Linked DNA regions of Homo sapiens: regions 2 and 3 are each linked to region 1. The links come from fine-mapping of genetic effects on gene expression. A gene starts in region 1. Each other region holds a variant in brackets. All regions are shown on one strand. Distances are between the middles of the regions. Region 1 holds the start of NSMCE1 (NSE1 component of SMC5/6 complex). Region 2 overlaps IL4R (interleukin 4 receptor). Region 3 overlaps NSMCE1 (NSE1 component of SMC5/6 complex).

Evidence for each region. PIP is the estimated chance that this variant, and not a neighbour inherited with it, causes the effect.
Region 2: its variant is the best candidate, but not a certain one, in a credible set for the expression of NSMCE1 in whole blood (TOPMed, PIP 0.89).
Region 3: its variant is the best candidate, but not a certain one, in a credible set for the expression of NSMCE1 in blood mononuclear cells (TOPMed, PIP 0.65).

Annotation. Positions count from the first base shown.
Region 1 is chr16:27,265,725-27,272,281 of GRCh38, reverse strand. NSMCE1 (NSE1 component of SMC5/6 complex) reads left to right here and starts at 3,510. Exons shown (of 8, transcript NM_145080.4): 1 at 3,510-3,576. NSMCE1-DT (NSMCE1 divergent transcript) reads right to left here and starts at 4,077. Exons shown (of 5, transcript NR_037184.1): 1 at 4,038-4,077. RefSeq lists an enhancer at 80-628 and a silencer at 3,537-3,616.
Region 2 is chr16:27,346,420-27,351,419 of GRCh38, reverse strand. IL4R (interleukin 4 receptor) reads right to left here. Exons shown (of 11, transcript NM_000418.4): 6 at 4,802-4,953. Among named protein-coding and RNA genes, the nearest start is that of IL4R, 35 kb to the right of the region's middle. The variant G/A (reference allele first, on the strand shown) is at 2,905.
Region 3 is chr16:27,234,829-27,241,385 of GRCh38, reverse strand. It overlaps NSMCE1 (NSE1 component of SMC5/6 complex), which reads left to right. Exons shown (of 8, transcript NM_145080.4): 3 at 6,087-6,208. Among named protein-coding and RNA genes, the nearest start is that of NSMCE1-DT, 30 kb to the left of the region's middle. RefSeq lists enhancers at 2,844-3,138, 3,542-3,661, 4,012-4,081, 5,002-5,526, 5,707-5,796. The variant T/C (reference allele first, on the strand shown) is at 3,227.

The DNA of each region.
Region 1 (6,557 bases):
GATTCTGACCACACCCTCCTTCTCAAAAGTCTGTATTCCTATGTGCCTCTGATGCCACTTTCACAGCATGTGGTTCATGAATGTCACCTATAGATTCTTGAGAATTTCTTGAAGCTTCCTTTGTGGCCCAGTAATCAATTTCTGTAAATGTTCCAAGCATGTTTGAAAAGAATAGATATACCCAAGTTCTTTTTCTAAAATACAAACCTTCTCTCATTTCTTCCTGGTCTTCCATCACTTCTATGGTCTTCAAGTGAAAGACCAACCCCCTCAGTCTTGAATCTTTCTTTTCTTTCTACCTTTTTTTCTTGACGCTTTGATCTTGAAATGCTGGTGTTCCCAGCGTTTTCTATTCTTTTATCTCTCCACACACCAGGGAAGCACATGCTTCACAAAAGGGGACGGTCTCTCCCAAGTTCTGAACAAGTGCTGCCATGGGGGAAGGCTGGCCCACTGTCGTCAGACTTCCCCACTTTTCCAGAGCAGTCAGCTACAGTAGGGTTTTATGTGAAATGTCCCAAGTTTATTTATTTATTTTTGAGACAGAGTCTGGCTCTGTCACACAGGCTGGAGTGCAGTGATGCAATCTCAGCTCACTGCAACCTCTTCCTCCTTGGCTCAAGCTGTCCTCCCACCTCAGCCTCTTGAGTAGCTGGGACCACAGGTGTTCACCACCATGCCTGGCTAATTTTTGCGTGTGTGTGTGTGTGTGTGTGTGTGTGCGCGCGCGCGTATATATTTTTTTTGTAGAGATGGGGGCCTCACCATGTTGGCCATGGCTGATCTCAAACTTCTGAGCTCAAGCCATCCTCCCAGCTGGGCCTCCCAAAGTGTTGGAATTACAGGAATGAGCCATCATGCCCAGTCAAAGATTGAAAACCCCAACTTTAAATATTGATAATGAATAGAAAATTTCACAAAACCATGTAGGGCAAACAAAACACAAATATTACTCCTTAGGGCTTTATTTCCCCTCTTATTTGACTACCTATTAGGCAGTTTATAAAGAACTTATTAGTGGTGTTAGTTCACACTTATTGAGGGCTTACAATGTGCCAGAGACACTCTTCTAAGTAGTTTACGTTTACTCTTCCTTTAATCTTCAGAATAACATTATCAACAAAGTGTTATTATTAAACCTGCTTTATAGATGAGCAAACTGAAGCTGAAAACTTGAGCTCAGTCATCCCTTAGTATCTGTGAGGGATTGGTACCTTAGTCCCCATGGATACCAAAATTCTCGATGCTCAAGTCCCTTATGTAAAATCAAAACCACCTTTGTAAAAAGCATAACTGAGAAAATTATGATAGTGAAAGAGATCTGGCCTGACTCCATCTTGCTTCTAACTTCCAAGCTGTCCTTGATCATTCCTGGACATAGGTGGAATTAATGTTGGAAAGAACTTAGTTTATAGTTTAACTTTGAAACAAAGGCAATAATAGCCCTTTCCCAAAACAAATCCCCTCCTTGCCTAGGAACGGGTCTGCCTTTGTAGACTAACAAATTAGCTAAAAGATTAGAAATTATGGTTTAGGAGGTCACGCAAGCTGGAGGCTACAAGATTCTGACCCTCCCCAGATTGCTTCCGGGAGTAACATCACTGTTCTAAAACCTAAAATCAGTGCTTGAGATATTTTGCAGAACCCGTGTTCTAATGCACCAGCTGACGCCACCCAGCCCTGTAATCTGGCTAATCTGGTCCTATGGTCCTAACCCAGGATCTGACTCAGTGCAAGAGGACAGCTTTGACTCCTTTCCTCTCTGATCCAACCTATCAACACTCTCTAATCCCCAGCACCTCCAGCCACCAAATTATCCTTGAAAACCCTGAATTTCCAGGGAGACTGATTTGAGTAATAATAAAACTGTGGTCTCCTGTTCAGCCAGCTCTGTGTGAATTAAACTTTCTCTATTGCAATTCCCCTGTCTTGATAAATTGGTTCTGTCTAGGAAGCAGGCAAGGAGAACCATTGGGTGCTTACAAAATGCGAGAATACTTGCATTTAACCTACACAAATCCTCCAGTATATTGAAAATCATCTTTAAATTACTTACAATACTTAATACAATGTAAATGCTATATAAGTAATTGCTATGCTGTATTGCTTTCGGAATCTGTATTATTTTTATTGTTGAACTGTTATTTTTTACTGTTTTCCCCCACAAATATTAACCACCCACAGTTGCTTCAATCCGTAGATGGGGAACCTGTAAACATGGACAGCTGACTGTACTTTGTCCTATGTCTCAGAGACACTGAGTTTAAGGCCCAGGATTCCATGTTGACCATCCAGCTCCAAAGCTGAAGCTTTTAATCACCACACACCACTGCTTTCCCACTTAGCAGATGAAACTGAAGCCCAGAGAGGTTAAGAGGTTGTCCAAGATCACAGGGGTGGTGAGTGACCAAGCCTGGATTTGATCTATCCTCACAGAGACAGATATTTGCAGGTACTGCTGTTCTATATTAGTTACCTGTTTCCCTTGCTAGGCTGCATCCCTAGCTCTCAGACCAGGGATAGAATTCAAACGTTTGGAAAATTAACGCCTTGAAGACTCAAAGCAGTCCATTCACTTCCACGAGTAATTTCACTTGCTTTCTCACAATCCCTAGGTAAGATAACAGTTAACATATAATCAGCACTCCCATGTGACACTTTTCAATGGCCATGCTAAGCACCTGATATAGGTGTTATTATCTCTTGTAAATCTCACCAACACTATTTTGCAAGAACTAATATCCTCATTTAATGGAAGAGGAAACTGAGGCTCAGTGACTTGCCCAAGCGCCTGCCAACTAGTAAGTGGCAGAGCCAGGATTCTAGATCAGGCTCTATGACCACAGAGTCCACATTTTTCTTTTCTTTTTTTTTGAGCTCTGTCACCCAGGCTCGAGTGCTGTGGTACGATCTGGCTCACTGCAACCTCTGCCTCTCGGGTTCAAGTGATTCTCCTGCCTCAGCCTCCCGGGTAGCTGGGATTACAGGCACACACCACCACGCCCGGCTACTTTTTGTATTTTTAGTAGGGACGGGGGTTTCACCATGTTGGCCAAGCTGGTCTCGAACTCCTGACCTCAAGTGATCGGCCCGCCTTGGTCTCCCAAAGTGCTGGGATTACTTACAGGCGTGAGCCACCGCGACCGGACCAGAGTCCACATTTTTGACGTCGAGGCCACACTCAGTTCCACAGATGGGGAAACTGAGGCCCGGGGCAGGGCACTACATTGTGCCAGCGGAATGGTGGCCATTGAGGGAAGCCCAGGCTGCACGCCAATTCTTCCTCCTTGGTCAGGGAAGTCACTGAGGTGCAGGAGGCGGAGGGCGACAAGTGGAAGCCCCTTCCCATTATTAAGGATCGAGAGCGGGCGTAATTTGGGATCTAACCCACGAGGCGGAACCACCAGGGCAATGGCGCAAACGGAGAACCGGAAGTGCGTCACTCAACGGACGGGCGAATAAGCCGCAGGCCACCAATGGGAACGCCGCGTTCGCGTTCGCCCCGCCTCAAAGGAAGAAGAGTCCACCTTGCGACCGTATCCGCTAGCGCGGCCTGGGATGCGCTTGGGCTCCCTGGTGGGTAACGTGGGGAGCTAGGGGTTGGAGGGGAAAGAAGAGGGACTTCAAGGAAGGCGAGGGGAGGACGGAAGGTGGGGTGGGCGAGACAGGCAGTGGGGTCCGGCCCCGGGGTCGGTCCCCGTGGGCTGTGGAACTCGGGGACTGGGGTCTTGGGGTTTCCCCCTTCTTGATGGGGAAACTGAGGCCCAGACAGGGGCCGCAGAAAACAGCGGACTGGGATGTCCTCCCGCAACACACACGCAGACATCTAAAAATCTTACTATTTAGTGAAAAATATTTTTAATCGTAATTACGATTTAACAGGTAAAGATACTTTTCATTGTAACAGGTGAAAAAGCAAAATATAAAATTCGATTCAAACTGTGATTACATCTATGGAAAATACAGCCTTTGCCGACCACCCTCTTTGTCCCGCCGCCCTCCGTGCTCCCCTCTGTTTTGTGTACGGAGTTTCTTACTTTGTACAAGTCCGCAGCCGCTTATGTTACAGCCCCGAGGCCAGATGCGTTTAAAATCGAGGAGTTCTCGGAGTTTGGAAAGGTAAAGTCCCTATGTTCTATGTTAGGTTTCACCCTCAGAGGGGGCTGGAGCAGCGGCTTGTAATCAAATACACGACCCTTTCCACAGCTAAAGTTATGAAGATACGCATATATTACATTGACCTGGTCGCGGTGGCCCACGGCTATAATTCCAGCACTTTGGGAAGCTGAGGGGGGCGGATCACCTGAGGTTCGGAGTTCGAAACCAGCCTGGCTAATATGGTGAAACCCTGTCTCTACTAAAAATACAAAAAATTAGCCGGGCGTGGTGGTGCGTGCCTGTAATCCCAGCTACTCGGGAGGCTGAGACGGAAGGCTGAGGCAGGAGAATCGCTTGAACCCGGGAGGCGGAGGTTGCAGTGAATCAAGATCGTGCCACTTCACTCCAGCTTGGGCAACAAGAGCGAAACTCCGTCTCAAAAAAAAAAATGCATATATTTACACTGTTGGGATAAATAACCATAAATAGCCTCACCTTAAGTCAGGTCAAGTTTTCCAACTTAAACAAGTTTTGGTATTCAGACTTTTTTTTTTTTTTCCCCTGCATCCGATCATCCACTAGTATTCATACCTTTTTAGATTTGAGGGTTGCAGATGAGGGACCTGGATTGTAGTTGTTCTGTTCACTCACTTTTCTCACTCTCGCTGGATAGAGAGTGTCCTTGAAAACAGGAACTGTGCTGTTGTATGGTCACGTCTATCTCTGCCACCAACTCTTGTGTGTCACCTTGTGCCCTCTTAGTCTCAGTTTCCTCATCTGTAAGATGGGGTCAGTGACCCTTTGCTCATAAGGTTGTTCTGGTTTGGGTTAAATGAGGTCGGGCATGTGAAGCACTAGAATTGTGTTAGCACCCGCACGAATGGTATGACTGAGATTTACTTATTCCACAAACATTTCTATTTTAAAATTATTAAATTTAAATAAATTGATTTAATTAATGCATTTAATTAATTTAATAATAAATTTAAACGTATAGATGTATTTCTTAAAATGTGGGTGATAGGAATTTTAAAGATTTATATAATGCTTCAAAAGCCTTCGAAAAGGTTTTTTTAATTGGTTTATCTGTATATATGAACTCTTGAAACTTATGGCTAAAACACTAGGATTTATCTGCAAGGTTGCAGAGAGATAATTCTGCCTTAAATTGGCTAAAACAAAAACAAAACCAGCCAACCTATATTATACATGGGATTAAAACCAATTTTTCTCCCATTTTTTTTCTCCTTTTTTCTTTTGCTGCCCACATTATGCCTTATTTTATGAGCCCCAGTTTTCTGGGCTTAGTTAAAAAAAATTCAGTTCTAAACATTGAATTTAGGGAGTTTTTGTTCTTGAATAAAAAGGCATATACTTAGAAAAAAAATCTGTTTATCCGGGAAAATATATTGAAATCATGCTGCTGAGCCTCTATTTTCTTTGATGTTTTGGTTCTGTATTATTTTATCATAACTTTTTAGCATTTAAAAATTTACTGATGTACATTTAAAGCCAATAAACTGTTTTAATTAATTTTTTTAAAAAAAGTAATTTTTTTTTTCTTTTTGTGACAGAGTCTCGCCCTGTCGCCCAGGCTAGAGTGCAGTGACGCGATCTTGGCTCACTGCAACCTCCACCTCCTGGGTTCAAGCGATTCTCCTGCCTTAGCCTTCTGAGTAGCTGGGATTACAGGCGTGCACCACCACGCCTGGCTGATTTTTGTATAAAATAAAATTATTTAAGTAGGTAATACATGTCTATGCTAATCCCACCATTCTCCCTACAGTCTCTTCTCATAGAGACAAGGGACATAATATGCATAAACAAGCTTATGGTTGTCTTTCTTCCACTCCTACTTTTCCCACTCCTTTTCCACCAAATTATAGCATTCAATCCTATCCTGTTCTCATTCTCATTTACATTTATTTTGGCTGTTATTTAACATATTCACATTATTTTGTTGTTGTTGTTGTTGTTGAGAGTGGATCTTGCTATGTTGCCCAGGCTGGTCTTAAACTCCTGGCCTCAAGCAGTCCTCCCGCCTTGACCTCCCAAAGTATTGAGATTACAGGTGTGAATCACCATGCCCAGCCCATCACATTTAAAAACATTGTATGTAACATACCTATACAATTGTGTGGAAGTGTAAGTTTGAAGAACAAAAATAAAATGAACACTCATGTACCTGCCACCAAGTTAAGAAATAGACATTTTCAGATTGCCAGACCCTCCACTGAATCCTTTCTTCCCTCCTCAAAGATAACCACCGCCCTGAATATTGTGTTACTTGTTGCCTTGTTTTGCTTTGTAGTTTTTACCATGTATGTGTGTATTTCTAATGAATGAATGTATGCTTTTGCTGAGTTTTCGATTTTATGTAATAGGATCCTAAAATATATTTTGTGTGACTTGCTTGTTGCACTTAACATTATCTTTCTGAGAAGTATGCGTGTTGATGT
Region 2 (5,000 bases), 80 kb before region 1:
GTCTTCTCGAGTGTGGGCAGGACCTGCTACTTGTTTCTAACCCACAGAATATGGTAAAGGTGATGGGATATATAGAGGATTTCATGGATGTGATTATATTACAGAAGACTGTAATATCCTACTTGCTAGGCAAGTCTCTCTGCCTTGATGGCTTTGCAAAGGGCACATGGGAAGGAATTCAGGGTTAACTACAACCAACAGCCAGCACGAAACTGAGGCTCTCAGTTCAACAGCCTGCCAGGGACTGAATGTCACCAATATTGTATGAGCTTAGAAGTGACCCTTCCCCAATTGAGCCTCAGATGAAACTGCAGCCCCATCCCACACCTTGATTATAGCCTCACGAGACTCTAAAGCAGAGAACCTGGCTAAGCTATGTCCAGACTCCCAACCACAGAAACTATGAGATAATAAATGGGTGTTGTTTAAAGCTGTGAAGCTGGTAGTACCATTATTATGCAGCAATAGAAAACTAAGACAGCGATGACTGAACACACACATTTGCTTGTATAGACATAAGCTCTCTCTAAAGGATGCACATGCCCTCTGCCTGCCCTAACCTTGCCTCCCTTTCCCTTCTGGCAAGAGACAGACAGCAGTGGTCAGTCTCTGGGAAGAAAAACAGGAGGCTGGAGTCGGGAGAGAAACATGTTTCCATTCTAAGTCCTTTTGTACCATTTGTATTTTTATTTTGTGTAACTATTACTTTTACCCTCCAAAAAAGCTTTAAAAAGTGATACATGAACGCTATATTCATGACTGACCCTGATGGCAAGTGAGCAACCTGAGTTCTCATCCTGTCACCCCTCTCCCTGCGAGATCCAGGGCTATGCACCTCCCTCTCCTCTTCCTCAGCCCCCGGCAGTTTCTTCCTGGTTACTGGCAGCTCCATTTCTGCTTGTGGTTGGAAGCACATTTGGGGAAACCTGGTGCAAAGTGAGCCAAGGGGAGGTTTTTTCACAAGAAAGAAGCAAAGTTCCAAAAGATTGCTGGAGCAACTACAGAGAGTTCAGAGATTTTCCTATTACAGAGGGAGCTGAGGGTGGGGTGTGAGTTGTGGGGAGACTGGGGAAGGGAGAGAAAATTCTCACTCTCTTTTGTCTTTCTTTCTAAACATGAGCAAACAAGAAGCAACAGCTAGATGTAAGTTACCGAAGAAATCTTACACCCTGGAAGGGAGCTGGGAACTGGGAAATGTTTTACTAAGAAACAAAAGAGAAATCTGAGCTTCCAAAGAACTACTTGCGGTTTGTCTGTTTTTTAACAAGAAGGACAGGTGTTTGGGAGACCATCTCTGAGAGAAATGTCCATGGGAGGAAAAAGAGCACAGGCTTGGGAGTTCAAATACTGGGTGCAAATCTCAGATCTGGGCTGGATGCGGTGGCTCAAGCCTGTAATCCCAGCACCTTGGGAGGCTGAGCCAGGGGGATCACTTGAAGCCAGGAGATCCAGACCAGCCCGGACAACATGGCGAGACCCTGTCGCTACTAAAAATACAAAAAATTAGCCTGGCGTGGTGGCCTGTGCCTGTAGTCCCAGCTACCTGGGAGGCAGAGGTGGGAGAATCACCTGATCCCAGGAAGTCAAGGATGCAGTGAGCCATGATCACGCCCCTGCATTCCAGCCTGGGTGATAGAGTGAGACTCTGTCTCAACAACAACAACAACAACAAAAACTCAGCCCTGCCATTTCCAGCTGTGTGACCCTGAGCAATGTGCCTGGCACATAGTAGGCATATAAAATATGGAAACCATTATGAGGCAGGCATTCAGGGCTCTAACTAAACTTTTGGCTTTGTTTGGTGCTTTATCGCTACACATATTCCCACATCCCCCAACCCCATAATCCTCAAACATTCCATGAATTTTCACACCCATAAACCTTTTATCATGCAGTTCCCTCTGCCTGGTCTACCGTTCCCTTCTTTCCCCATCTAGAAAACTCCTATGCATCCTTCAATGCCCAAGCCAAAACTCCCCCTCCACTATGGAACCTTGCCTAGAAATTATCTAGGGGAATGAATGAGTAGCTCTAGCCCCAAAATTCTATAGTAAGTTCCTAATGTTTCTTTCTGGAATTTATCCCACTCAGTATGAGCCACAGTTGGTGCCTATAGTGCTGTGGCAGATGCAGGTGGACACCCGCCCAGCTTTTATGCCATCGGGTTTAGGTGCCCACTGCTTAGGACAGAACTCCACTGCCTGCAACTCCAGGGCCAACCCTCATTAGTCTAAGCCAATTGTGCCAATCCCATCACCTGGCCTATCATTCATCAGAGGGGAGCATGTGGCCAAGCTCTGGCCAATCACTAAATTCTTTATGTTCAGCTCTGTTCTTGGGAAGGGAGAGATGGGGTATCTCAGTTGCCACTGTTCCACCCACAAGAGAAGCTGGACTTCATTCTTCTGCCTCAGACCTGGTATCTGGAGGCCTGTGGCATCCCTGAGCACCAACATACCCCTAAGCCATAGCCCAGGCATGCTGACCAATCCAATCCCATGACTGGCATCTGGTGCCACGTCTTAAACCTGGCTGGCATTTTAGCCAGCACAGTCCTGCTTCCTCTTCCCCAGTTTCCCCTGGGGAAGCCACTCCTGCCTTATTTTCAGTTCATCTGGTTTGGATGGAGCTGAGCCCACCTGCAGCCCTAGAGGCAGGTATGTGACTCCTCCCTGGACAAGCAGGGCCCTCCACCAGCACCCTCTCTCCACCCACAGCCAGTGATTGGTTCAGAGGCTGGCACAGCATCGAAGCCAGGCCACTGAGCAGCAGCCTTAGGACTCTTATTAGAACCGTCAAGAAAAAAAACCCTTTTCCCACTGTGGCTTTGGGATGTAGGCCTGGAGCAACTAGTAGGCATATCTGCCACTACATGAGGGAAGAGCCTGCCTAAAAACGAAGCCA[G/A]TACAGAATAAAGCAGGGCGCAGAGCTGGACAGGTTCCTAGAAGCTGGATCCAGCCATGCCTGAAGGCAGATCTAGAAATATGAAAATATTAAATAACATATCTTTGGACTCTGAAGGTGGTACCTTTCTCTTCCCCCCAGCCCATCCTTGGGACTCTCTGTAGGTCTTGCACAGGCCTGGGGCATGAGAAGGAGATTTATTGACCAAACAAAACTTGCCCCACTCTCTAGCATCTGTGCACTCCTTCCCCCCATGCCCCCCGCTTTCTGAGCCTCTGCTGTGTGAGCCAACTGCCCCATTCCTGCTCTTTCCCCATACCTGGCCCAGTGCCAAAGGGGAAACCAGACCTGAGAGATATAAATCGACACCCCTGGCTTGGCCAGATTGAGAGGAAGCAGTGACAGACACCAGCATGGGAGCTTAAGGTGGCGGGTGCCTGCTCCCTGAGAGCCAACCAGGCCCAGCCTGGGCCCCTGGGATGCACAGAGCCGGCCCTCACAAACCTCAAGGAACAAATGACAGACCAGTGTGTGGGACAGCGGGCAGATGGGGATCTCTGTGGCCTGGGGCACTCAAGAGAAAGGGCACATGGCTTTTAGGACACATGTGGGCCAAACAGGGGAGCTCATCTGTATCACACACCTTGTACTGTCATAGCCCTGTGGGCGGGTGCTCTTGTCACTCCTGTGTTACAGATGAGGAAACTGAGGCACAAAGAGGTTATGGGATATGCCCAACATCACACAGCTGGCGAGTGGCACAGCAGGCATTGGATTGCAGCCCTGTGGGACCCCAGGTCCCATATGTCCAGAGATTGTCCCTCCAATGGGAATGTGAGGAAGGTGGATTCAGGGTGGGGAAACATGGGTGGCAGGAAATGACCTCCCTGCACACCAGCAGAAAAATAGGGGGACTCAGCCACCCACTGTGGACGGCCCCTGCCATTACTGACCTGATAGTTTCCTGTAAATCCTCTCGCCCTTTTTAAAGATGTCAATACATGTACTTAAGAAGGAACTCCACTGGCCAGGTGCGGTGGCTCACACCTGTAATCCCAGCACTTTGGGAGGCCAAGGCGAGTGGATCATCTGAGGTCAGGAGTTTGAGACCAGCCTGGCCAACGCAGTGAAACCCCATCTCTACTAAATATACAAAAATTAGCTGGGCACGGTGGCAGGTGCCTGTAGTCCCGGCTGCTCAGGAGGCTGAGGCAGGAGAATCGCTAGAACCCAGGAGGCGGAGGTTGCAGTGAGCCAAGATCACGCCACTGTGTTCCACCCTGGGTGACAGAGTGAGACTCTGTCTCAAAACAAACAACAACAAAAACTCCACCAACACTACTGTGAAGGGAATGTCAGGACCAGCTTCCATGGGGAACAACCAACAAACTGATCTTGTTTTCTTGGGAAAGTCTAAGCCTGGGGTGTGGCCTCTGCTCTCTTCATTAAGAGGAATTAGTAAACGAGTCAGCTGTATGGGGACTTCCTCCTTAACCCGTTGGCCTCAAAAGGGAACTGACACGGGTCACTGTCTCTTGAGTCAGTATTATTCTCTTCAATAATAGGGTTATTCAAGTGAGCTGTCAATGTGCCACCTACGATCACTTGTGTCCCCCAAACTGGGAAACACAGATGTGGCCCACAGCCCTACCTTTACAGAGGAGGAGCGGCATGCAGAGATAACTCCCCTTCTCTGATGTGAGGGGTGGGGGGCCAGGAAGCAAAGGGACTTGCCTAGTGCAGAGCCAGGTGAGAAGCCAGGTCTCTAGCTCCTGGGATTTGCTATCCAGCCCCAGGGCTTGCCTCCCAGGCTCCTGGCTCCAGGGACTGGGCCTCTGCTGGTCACCCACCCTGTTCCCCAGAGGTCACAGAAAAACGTCAAAGCATGCCCACTCACATCTGCCGGGTCGTTTTCACTCCAAATGTTGACTGCATAGGTGAGATGATTATACAGGTAATTGTCAGGGGGATACGGGTTGCTCCAGGTCAGCAGCAGAGTGTCGGAGACATTGGTGTGAACTGTCAGGTTTCCTGGGGCCCTGGGTTTCACTGCGGGAGAAGCGGCCTCTATGTGAGGATCTATGCAGTGACTCCCC
Region 3 (6,557 bases), 31 kb after region 1:
GTCCACCCTGTCTGTCGGGAGGGCTGTCAGAGGGTAAGTTGGCTCACAGTGGCTTGGGCCCTTGGAGTCTTATTTTTTGCTGTTATTTCCTCTGCCTAAAAATAACATTTTATGTTTTTATTGCCTAGTTTAGAACAAAACTATTTGTTGGTCAGAGGTCAGGGCAGTAGACTTCCCAATTTCCTGTTGCCCAAGTGCACAGTGAATCCTAGGTTCCAGTAGCCTCTGGGAAGCAGGGACCCTGATATAGCAAGAAGAGGCTCATTGGTAACATTACATTCCAATGTAACTTAATCATTTCTTTCATTTTTTGAGAGATGGCCTAGCTCTGTCACCCAGGCTAGAATGCAGTGATGCGATCATAGCTCATTGCAGTCTCCAACTCCTGGGCTCAAGCTATCCTCCTGCCTCAGCCTCCCAAGTAGCTGAGACTATAGCCACATGCCACCATGCCTGGCTGATTTTTAAATTTTTTTGTAGAGATGAGCTCTTGATCCATTGCTCAGGCTTGTCTTGAACTCCTGGCCTCAAATGATCCTCCTGCCTTGGCCTTCCAAAGTACTGTGATTACAGGTGTAAGCCACCACACCTGGCCTTAAAATTTAATTTTAAAAGAAAAGGAGAAACTGTATACAGAATTAGTCCAAAACAAAATCTCTCAAGATGACTTGAGCCAACCCTTCTCCTTAGGGGAGAAGTGTCCTGTTTTGTTCAGTGCTTGTCACTTGCCTGGAGGCCCGTTTTCAATTGCCACCACTGATGGGCATTTCCTGTTAAAGGAAGAGTGGCTCTGTTCGCTCCAGGGTCTTTGCCTTTCCTCAGCTGCTCCTGCTGCCCTGCATGCTGTCCCTGCACGCTGGACCTGGCCCAGTGCTCAGGGCTGGGCCAAGGGGATGATGGATGCTGGGGTGGGCTGGGTTGAGGGGATGATGGATGCTGGGCTGAGCTGGGTTGAGGGGATGATGGATGCTGGGCTGGTCTGAGCTGAGGGGATGATGGATGCTGGGCTGGGCCAGGCCGGGCTGATCCAATGCATCTCCTCTGTGAGTGCAGCTCCTCTTTGGGTACCACCTCTGGTGTCCTAATCAGGTGCCCAGATGCCTTCCATCCTTCCCTGTTGGCCCAGTCTCTCTTGGTGACTCTGAAGCACAGGGCAGGTGCAGGAGGGTATAGACGAGATGACGGTGGGGTCTGGTATAGAGGATGTCCTCAGGCTTGTTCTGTGGAGCCCATGGGGCTTAGTGCCTGGGAGCTTAGGATCTGGGGTTGGGCAAGCCCGGGCTCCATTTCCTTCCAAGTTACGGAAACTATGAGCAAGTTGTTAACCTCTCCAAGCCTCCTGTATATACAGATGATACTAGTGATTTCATCTTACGGAGTTACTGTTATTGTCATGATGAAATGAACCATGTGAATGCATAGTGCTGGCACATAATAAGGTAATCATAGCCACACATTTGCAGGCCCCTTGATTTTAGCCTAACATGAGCTACTTTACTATAGCCCTTAAGAAATCCAGACACACCCTGCCTCTTCCAAGTAGAGAGAACACAGATAGCACTGTGTTTAGAGGTTTAGAGGTTCAACTTGCTTGATTTAAACATGTTGCTGGTTGTCCTGGCTAGGGTATCTCTTTCCCTCTAGAGGAGACATCTGTGCTAGGGCCAGGGCCTCGTTCCTCTGTCCTCATAGCTGGGCCTCCCATATCACTGACTGGAGGTTGGTGGTGTGCAGAGAACCAGCCTCTGATCCAGCGCTACCTACAGAAAACCTGATGTTTTGATATTTACTGAAGGTTGTGTCTTTTTCTTCAGTTGGTTCTGGATTCTGAAAAGGAGTGGTGTTGTTAATTAACTCCTAAGTCTTCAAAGTGGTATTTCTAAGACTGAAAGTAGTTGTCTCAGAATCTCACCATACGGACTTTATTCCGCACTCTTTATCATGACCATGGGCTCGTAGAATATTGAGGTCAAAAGGATCCTCAGACATGCCTTTAGCCCAGTGTATCCCTACAGATTGGCAAACTGTAGCTTCTCCACCAGGGCTCCTGGATCAGGGGAGAGACCAGGGGCAGAGCTGTGGACATTAGCTGTCCTGAAGACCTGAGGCTGGGAAGCAGCGATCTGGTGCAACCTTAGCGCTTAGTGGACATCATAAGGATCTTGGGAGCAAGCAAGAGACCCCAGTTCTGGTCAACTTAGAAAGGAATGTGTCGGGGCTGGGCACGGTGGCTCACGCCTGTAATCCCAAAACTTGGGGAGACAGGTGGGCAGATCACTTGAGGTCAGGAGTTTGAGACCAGACCAGCCAACATAGTGAAATCCCATCTCTACTAAAAATACAAAAAATTAGCCAGGTGTGGTGGTGAAACACCTGTAGTCCCAGTGCCTGGGGAGGCTGAGGCAGGAGGATCGCTTGAACCTGGGAGGTGGAGGTTGCTGTGAGCTGAGACTGTGCCACTGCACTCCAGCCTGGGCAATGGAGTGACACTCCATCTCAAAAAAAAAAAAAAATGTGTCGGGATGCTATTGGGGGAGGGACACATAGGACTCATTGGTGGCCAGGTGCACAGTTGGGGATAGGCAGGAAGCATGGCATCACCTCATGGCCAGAGCAGCTGGCCCTCTGTAGCTTCTGGGCTGGAGCCACCTCCAAGCTTCCTTTTGTCCCTTGCTCAGATTGGGAGAGTGTCTGGCTGATAGGGGTTCTCTGTCTACTCCTGGCTGCCCTAATCTCTGGTCCCTTCAGCTTTCTGCTTTCTGGTTCCCTGAATATCATACCTGGAATTATTCTCTCACCAAAACCGCAAATGTAAGAGAAAGACAATTGTAAAAAAAAAAAAAGAAAAAAGGCGAAGGTCTCGTTAGGGAGGGACATGGCTGCTGGGCTGGCAGGTGTCACCAGCTGACTCCTGTCTTGGGGCGGCGGCTGGACACAGTAACTGGAGTGCCACGTGATGAGGAAGGAAGTGCTGCCATGGGAGGACAGAGCTGGGAAGTGCAGCTTATCTGGTTGGGGAAGGCCTGTACGGGAGGCTGCCAGAGGATCAGGAGGCTGGGGTCCAGCCAGGGGTGGTGGTAGAGAAGCGGGAGGGAAGAGGGTTCTGGACATGTGTGAGGCTGGAGGCGAGACTGTGTGTGGCTGTTAGAGATGAGAAGTGGGGGAGAGGCTCACGCAGGGCCCCACAGAGCGGGAGGGCAGGATGGGCTAGAGCCCACACCTCTGC[T/C]TCTGGCCCCATGCCACCACGCCACCTCTGTTGCTGCTGAAAGGAGTCAGTTGAAGGGTTTGGGGGTGCTGAGTGTAAGAGAAGTTTCTTCTCAGGTCACGATTAAGAGGAGCTGCAAGGGCGCGGGGCCTCCGTGAGAAACAGTTACAGGGTCAGCGATGGAGATCGTGGACATGACCCTGATGCAGGAAGCGTGTGGAAGGAAAGAGGGCGATAGCGGAGAGAACGGGAGCGCCCAAGCAGTGGCTGGTGTGTGCAGTGAGCGAGTACAGTAGGAGGAAGTGGTTGGTCAGATGAAAATACAGCAAAACATTCATGGTTTCTGAAAAATGAGGCTGGACGCCAAACCAGAGGTGGTGTGGAGAGGGGAAGGGCAGAGAGGGCTGCTGGCTCCCTCCCTGCAACGGGGTGTCTGGAAAGTCCAATAGATCAGAATGCTTCTCATCTGCCCACAGGGCACATTGTTCTCAGTGATACCCAGGAGGGGCCTCGTTAGTGGAAAATGTGAATTGTCACTTTCAGAGAGGTGGGACTTGCCCCAGTGTCACACTGGGTGGACAGGGTTCCTGTCACTCACTCCGCACTGAACGAGGCTTTTTGATGTCTGGGCCTCTTGCACCTGAGCTGCCCAGCGTTGGCTCCCCTTGGGGGTGGAAAAGTGTGTCTGGCCAAGTCACTGGCACAGGCAGGTACGGAACAGCTCGGCTCCCACGCCAGCAAAGAGCTGCCTTGCATGCTGTGGAAGAGGAAGACAGCACCGGGGGCAGAAGAGAACATTTCCTGGAAAAACAGGCCATCCAAGGTGGCTGCCGCAGTGGAGGGAGAGGAGTTTTCAGAAAGGAGGGGCCCGTGAGCAGGGGCATGGAGGCAGGAAGTCAGGCCATGCCTCCCTCCTGATGCCTGCTCTCCAGCCGCCGAGGCCAGATGTCATTGTCATATGTTACGATCTCACCACATCCATGTTCCACCCACTTACTATGACTACTTTTTAATTTAAACTGCCTTTTAAAAACTTAACTGAAAGGGAAGATTAGCTCCTCGCTGAGCATGGCACATTAGTGTCACTGCCCTGGGCTTTGTTCTCAGCTTTTCTGGGCCCCACAGTCTGATCCTCTGACAGAGCTCATTGGCCTGGGTTTTCCTTGACTCTTTCACACGGCCACATCCTCCATTGTCACCAGCATGATCTTCTGTTGTTTTTTTTTTTAACTTTATGAATCTTGAGTTGTACGGGTAGCTTAGAAATGCCTCTGTCTAATAAGAAATCAAACACAGACATACAGCACGAGTGCCCTGTGATGACCCTTCGTTTAGTCCCTTCCTGGCGATGGCCTTGGTCGTCAGTCCAGTGGGTAACCTGCTGGGCCTTTTCCTGTGGGACTGTTTCATTGGTTCTGTTTTTGTTTCACACATGAATGTATCATATTGTCCATTTTTTCTTGCAGTTTTTTTTCCAGAATGATTTTCTAAGGCATGAATCTTTTGAAATTATTTATTTTAATACATAAAAACAGTAGTGAAAACAATAATACATACTCTTGCTTTAAAAAGTTTCACAGCACAAGCTGGGCGTGGTGGCTCACGCCTATAATCCCAGCACTTTGGGAAGCTGAGGTGGGCGGAACACTTGAGGTCAGGAGATCGAGACCAGCCTGGCCAACATGGTAAAACCCCATCTCTACTAAAAATACAAAAATTAGCTGGGTGTGGTGGTGCATGCCTGTAATCTCAACTCCTCGGGAGGCTAAGGCAGGAGAACTGCTTGAACCCGGGAGGTGGAGGTTGCAGTGAGCCAAGACTGTGCTACTGCACTCCAGCCAGGGCGAGAGCAAGACTCTGTCTCAAAAAAAAAAAAAAAAAAAAAAAAGTTTCACAGCATAAAAGGGACACAACGCTGGCCATGTCCTTCCACTGCTTCCAGTGCTCAGAGGCTTCCTGGTGCCACAGGAGAAAGGCCCTGCTGTCCCCGGCCACGGGCTCCTGTCCTCACCGCAGCCTCTCTGTCCTCCTCAGCTGAGCCCCCGGCAATAGTGTGGGTGCCCCCTCCTCAGACTGATGGACCTGGATGGTGGCCCCTGGGCTGTGAGCATCCTGCTGGCAGGGCCAGGGGAGGTGGGCGACAGAGAAGTCAAAGCCCCGGCCTTGTGGTGCAACTCTGGGCGAGTCAGTTCACCTCTCTGCGTCTCAGCCTCTTCCCCTGTGCCCAGAGAGCTGCTGGAGGGTGGATTCATGACGACAAAAGGTGCCCAGGACAGGGCCTCTCCATGCTGAGGGCTCGCTGCAAGCCACCCTTCTCACCCCGTTTGTTGTTATTCTTACTGTTCCAGCCCAGGACCCAGCACAAGCCTGGCATGTAAGTGAGGATAACCCGACATTGAATAAAAAGAGAAAGGAATAAAGCTCCACCTAAGATGTGTGGGGACATACAGGGACAGAGGCCTCTCGCGGGGCACTGGGGATGCGATAGAAGGGCTGAGATGGGATAGGATGTTTGTGCGGCGGGAGCTCACGCAGGCTCTGAGCACATCATTGAGTAATGCGCTGAAGGTGCTGATTGGGACTCTCATCAGGAGGCAGCGAGCAAAGACAGGAAGCCCGCGGCAGCCTCCGTGGTTGCAGATAGCATCTCCCTGGCCCTCCTGCCTCACAACGCCCTCCATCTGTTGTCTGTTTGTCTTCCAAGTACTCCAGGAAGAAAGAAGCCACGTGGCATTGGCGTTCACCCAAGAGGCTGCAGCCTCCACCCATGTCTGGGGTTGCTGTCCCCTGCGTTGAGATGGGATGGAATGATTCAAGCAAGCTACATTTTTTTGATGAGGCCCCCTGGTCACCCCCCTTTTTTTGGTCTGTTTATTTCCAGGCAATGCCACCGTAGATAAGTTGGAGGACTTCATCAACAACATTAACAGTGTCTTGGAGTCCTTGTATATTGAGATAAAGAGAGGAGTCACGGAAGATGATGGGAGACCCATTTATGCGTTGGTGAGTGCCCGGCAGAGCCCTCTAGTGGCATTTTTGAGGAGCTGGAACAGGGCCCAGGCAGCCTGTGTTTGCTTTGGTTTGATTTCTCTTTTGGACAGTTCTTTGCAAAGAAGTCACTCCAAATGTATAGAATATTAGGAATAAAGGGAGAAAATGGTTTTTTATTTAGAATAAGACATAGAAGCTATGAAAAGAAACTCTGTAGGAGTGTCAAGGATTGCAGGCCATGTGGGTGGGGCCTTCAGTGGTTTTCAGATTTACTCTCACAGGTAGGGATTTGGGCCTCATCCCTCCTGCCGCCGACTCCCCGTTCACCCACGTGATGTGTTCAGGATGCCACAGCCAGAAT